2 separate regions of the Homo sapiens genome follow, and region 2 is linked to region 1. Evidence: fine-mapped expression QTL. Tissue or cell type: whole blood. Region 1 holds a variant in brackets; the other region holds the start of a gene. All regions are shown on one strand. Distances are from middle to middle.

Evidence for each region. PIP is the estimated chance that this variant, and not a neighbour inherited with it, causes the effect.
Region 2: ITPKB-IT1 starts here. The variant in region 1 is fine-mapped to the expression of ITPKB-IT1 in whole blood (TOPMed, PIP above 0.99).

Annotation. Positions count from the first base shown.
Region 1 is chr1:226,706,158-226,708,920 of GRCh38, forward strand. The region is part of intron 2 of ITPKB (inositol-trisphosphate 3-kinase B); the gene reads right to left. Among named protein-coding and RNA genes, the nearest start is that of ITPKB, 32 kb to the right of the region's middle. RefSeq lists a silencer at 2,462-2,637. The variant C/T (reference allele first, on the strand shown) is at 1,555.
Region 2 is chr1:226,673,690-226,676,452 of GRCh38, forward strand. ITPKB-IT1 (ITPKB intronic transcript 1) reads right to left here and starts at 1,379. Exons shown (of 2, transcript NR_103784.1): 1 at 1,228-1,379. All of the region lies in intron 2 of ITPKB (inositol-trisphosphate 3-kinase B), which reads right to left. RefSeq lists a silencer at 2,361-2,510.

The sequences.
Region 1 (2,763 bases):
TCAATTGTTTAAATCAAAGGCAGTACGAAATTTAGAAAGATTAAGATGATGGGAAAGAACGTGGTACCACAAGTTGAACTCAATCCTGGAAAATAATAAATGATAAAACAATAAATAAAAATACTTGATAGTGAAACCCATTGGGCTGGACAGTGGTTTCCTCCAAGTTAAGTACAAGAGACTCCCTTTTATCCATTTCCATACCTAGGGTTCTTGACAGAAAACTTTCTAGAATGTGGGTTTTCTGAGCTGAGAGGGACTTCAGAGATCAACAAGTCTTTGGGTTCCAAACCTGAAGACTGTGGGCTAGGATCTAGACAGGCTTCTTGTTATCAATGTCCTGAAAGGGCAACATGGCCTGTGAAATGTGCCTCTCTCTGGAAAAAGGGTGTGTGGCTTTCTACCACTTTCCAAAATGGCATAAGACCCAAAAGGGGTTAAAAAACACTGATTTGGTCCAGCTCTTGGATTTCACAGATAAGACCCAGAAAACTCAGTTGAGTGCTCCAGGTGACAGGGCAAATTATATGTCACCTTCTAAAGCTGGTTGGGGCCTGTGGGAGGAGGAGGAGGATACCACTCGAGCTAACAGGTCTTTTCCATTTCTAATTACAAGGATTCCATGAAGTTTCCAGCCGCCAGTCTGTCTGGCTTTCTGGGCCTGGGTGTGTCAGTCGCCACTCTGTTGCCGAGGTGCACAGATGGCCAGGGGACTGGGGTGGCTGGATATGGCCAGCAGCCAGCTGGCTAGCATCCAGGCATCAGCTCTCAGCCAAATTTCTTCCTGGGGGCTCAAAAAGGGGTTTCCAAAAAGTCCAGTCCACAGAATGAGGCACAGTTCAATCCTCTAGGGACTCATCACTAAGGGTGGTTGCATAAGAAAAATTATGAAAAACCATCACCCTCCAGTACCATATGGGCTCTATTTCCAGGCCAGCGCAATTAAGAACAATTTCACAAGGAAATAAAGGGACCTAGTAGAATAATTCAGAATAAAAACATTATTGCCAAATAAAGTACAATCTTTTTTTATTTTTTATTTATTTATTTATTTTTGAGATGGAGTTTAGCTCTTTCGCCCAGGCTGGAGTGCAGTGGTGCTATCTCGGCTCACCGCAACCTCCGCCTCTCAGGTTCAAGCAATTCTCCTGCCTCAGCCTCCCAAGTAGCTGGGATTACAGGTGCCCACCACTACACCTGGCTAATTTTTGTATTTTTTAGTAGAGACGGGGTTTCACCATGTTGGCCAGGCTGGTCTCAATCTCTTGACCTCAGGTGATCCGCCCGCCTTGGCCTCCTAAAGTGCTGGGATTACAGATGTGAGCCACTGCGCCTGGCCAATAAAGTAAAATTTTAAGAGAAAAACATGGAATGGAAGAATATTTGTACATTAAGTAACTGACAGCTTACTATATAAAATGCCATCAACATGTTCGGGCAGTGGGGGCTCAATGGGGATAAATAGGCAGTGTACACATGAGTAACTCAAGGCCATCATCACAAGGAAACATGTAGAGTCCCTCTTGAAAACTAAAGAATTACAAATTACAACTT[C/T]AAGGGACAGTAAGACAATATCAAACTACAAACAAAATCCAATGGTCGTAGGGAAACTGCAGCACTTAGACTTTACAGATGACCCCGTAATTGGCTCAGTCTTTCCAGAGAGTAGTGTAGGAAGATGAAATATGCTATACATCATTCTTGGTATTGGACGTTGCCCCAGCAGTACCACTGAGGGGAACACTTCCCAAGAAGTCACTAAAGGGAGAAGAAAAGAGGTCATTTTAACAAAAATACTCATGGCTGCATATGGCAATAACTGCAACAAAATATGGAAACTACCCACCAAAGGTAGGAGTAAGATGATGTAAATGATGTAGTAGCTCAAAGTTCACACTCAGGAATCAGACCACACAGTTGATTACTGTATGAAATGACGTTAAAACAATAAAAGATAAAACTAGTACAATCAGATTGCAATTATGTAAAACAAAATTAGGCAATTGATCAAAGACCAAATTGGATTTACAACGATTGTAAATACCTAGAATGAGTTAAATCATTCATTTAGTCGTGGTTATCATTATTTAGTCATGGTTATCATTAGCTTCTTTCTCTGTAATGTTTAAGTTTTTGTTAAAAACCAAAAAGAACAAAAAATAAATCAAACCTGCCTCAAACCGTTGGTAGAATAACAGCTCAAGGGACCTAACTGAGACCCACCCAAATGTATGCTCTTTGGAGCTACTCCCAGAGTCAATACTAATTGTTATAAGCCACTCCCATGCCAGAGGCTGACTTAGGCACGAGTAACTCGAGACATTCTGGTCAATGAGACACAGGGGATATCTGCTGGGAGCCTTCTGAAAAAGATGTCTCGGCCTTAGACACCATGAAGAGCCATCCCCTTTTTCCTCCAAGGGATATTATCATTTCCACACAGGACACGAGGCCCTGTAGCACCCATCTGGCAACCACGAGGAAAGATGAGTCAACACGTTGTGAGACAGGGCAGAGAGATGCAGAGGACACAGGTCTTTCAGTAACTCTGCTATGCTGATGAATTAGCCAATGCTAGAACTGCCTGTGCTGGGACTTACTGATCAAGGTGAAAGAATGTGTTTTCTTTATTGTTCAACTCTACTGGGTTGCAGTTTTCTGATACTTGCAGCTGACAGCATCTTAACTCGTGAGGCAGCAAGCCTGAGCAGCTTTCTGATGCAGGCCTGGCAGGCCATGCTGCCCTAGGCCAGTATTCTGCCA
Region 2 (2,763 bases), 32 kb before region 1:
TATGTACATATACCATATACATTAGATATATGCTATATATTTACACTTCTTGGCCTTTCGGCTTTATTATCTATCTCCACAAAGTAGGACAAGACAAGCTTGTTTCCCATTTAAGTTTTTCTATCTGTACTGTTTTGCAAATCCACCAGAGAGTTGCAGGACACTCCTGCTACAGAAAGATTTCTGCCAGGCAGGCTCAGAGACCTGCTCTGTTACTGTTCTATTTAATAACACAAACACACAAATGGGGGCCTTTCTTCCCCATGACTTTCATGGCATGGCTGGGGGCAGAGCTGGGAGGTTTTCACGGCCCATATATCCTCAAACTGCTCCATTTCCCCCCGATCTCAGTTGCCACCCCACTAACTCCGGGGTGATCAGCTCCATACCACAATCATCTCCTGGTGATAGAGTTCCATGGATTTTAAAAGCTGTAAGAAAAACTGAGACAGATTCAGAAGAGATTCTAGTAACCCCAAACCAGCAATTACAAATATTTTTTAAGTATTTATATATACACATTTTTTTTTGAGACAGAGTCTCACTGTTGCCCAGGCTGGAGGGCAGTGGCACCATCTCGGCTCACTGCAACCTCCAACTCCCAGGTTCAAACCAATCTCCTGCCTCAGCCTCCGAGTAGCTGGGATTACAGGCACCTGCCACCACACTTGGCTGATTTTTGTAGTTTTAGTAGAGATGGGGTTTCACCATCTTGGCCAGGCTAGTTTTGAACTCCTGACCTCGTGATCCACCCACCTCAGCCTCCCATAGTGCTGGAATTACAGGCGTGAGCCACTGTGCCTGGCCTAATTTTTGTATTTTTAGTTAGAGACGGGGTTTCACTATGTTGGCCAGGCTGGTCTCGAACTTCTGACCTCAGGTGATCTGCCCGCCTTGGCCTCCCAAAGTGCTGGGATTAAAGGAGTGAGCCACCACACCCAGCCACAAGTTTTAGATACTTAAAATACTTTTAAGTATCTAAAATTAGCACCTCTCTTTAAACCTTTTACTCACCCTTTCCTGACCCTTTCCTTGTATCCCCCATTCCCTTTCGATTTCTTCACCATCCCTATTTGCCTCCTTTTCCTCACTATCTACCCACCAAGTCCTGCTCTGCTCCCATCCCACTTAAGATTTTCGTGTCTATTCTGTATCACCCTTAATGATCCACTGAGGCTGTGAGCTTCCTGTTTACCCACAAGCGTTCAGCGGATCCAGCCATCCTACCAAGGGTTAAAGATGCTGTAGTCCTACTGTGCTGCCTCCGACCCAGTTCCTTCCAAAACAAAGCAGGATGACAAGGTGACTCCACGAGAACTGCGTTTGACCTCTGTGTGGGTTTTCTGTTTCCAAGGCCACAGCAGGGTACTCTGAAAACTCTAAACCAGAAGGAAAGGAGACCTAGCCTTCAGAACTCTGTGTGTATGTGCTTACAGGCAAAAAAAAAAAAAAAAAAAAAAAAAGGAACCAATGAGGTTGTCAGAAGGGGATACTCTGCTGTAACTGGTGTTTACCACGACCCACCGGGTGCTGAGGAGGAAGTGGTTGCTATAACCCCAAGGGGGAAACGCTCGCTTGAAACAGGAAAATAGAACTCTTACAACTTTCCATTAGCAGCGTTCAAGAAGCCGGCCACACTGGGAAACACTTGCACAAGCACTCCCCAGAGTCCTGAGACGAGTGTCAAGACAGTCCAATCACGAAGCACAGATCAGGACACAGATACAGGTCCATGTTTTTTCCAGAACGTCTCAGCACTGGAAAAACTCTCATGATCACTTCCCTTACCTCCAGCAGGCTGAACTTGCAAGGAGCTGTGGGGAGGAGGAAGGAAGGGGAAAATGGCAGGATGACATATTGGAAAGAACGCTGGGCCCAGTGAGGGTCAGAAGACCTGGGCTTTAGTCCCAGTTCTGCGATTTACTAGTGGTGGAACTTTGGGCAAATTACCCAACCTTCCTGCTTCTCGATTTCTACTTCCTCTATAAAACAGGGATATTGTTTACTGCTCTGCTCACATCCTTGGGCTGCTGTGAGAATCCTATGGAATCCTTCATAGGATGAAACTCGTATGTGCTACGCAAATGCTTGTTATCAATGTAAGATTCGAGTCTGCATAAAGCCTTCTTGAGTCCCAGCCTCTTGCTCCTCAAACGCATCCTCTCGGCTACACTTCCACCTGTGCACTTCCTCAACCCACCTTACTTGTAATTCTGCCCACACTTCTGTAGAATTTCTGTAGAAGATCCCATAGTCTGGTCAGAGGAGTATAAGCAAGTCTAAATAACCAAAGTGGGGGGATCTCAACCAAATCATTTGACTCTGGGCTCTGTGCTCCCACATTCTCTCCTCTCCAGAGGTGAAGACTTCATCCTCAATGGCTAATTTGCCTGCTTGGAGGCTCAGATTGGCCCGTGTTCTGAGTCATATTTTCCATTTAGTAAAATGAACATCTGGCTGCTGTATGATGCCTTTTGTGTACCATCACCTAAGCCACAATTACCTGCAAGGTAATTCATACCACTACAGCACGGTGCAAAAACAGGGTTGGTTTGGGATGGTGAAAGTCAGCCATCTTAGTGTCAATCTTGCATGCAAATTCTAATGAAGAAAAGCCACTACCAGCAGGTCCACACACACTCACAAAGAACTCATAAATTATTTTAATCCAAGCGTTCAAAGGGATCCTGGGTCCCAGGAACCATCCTGCTGTTTCATCTCAGTGAGAGGCAAGATGGTTAAGGAAAAACAGCTCTAGTTTCC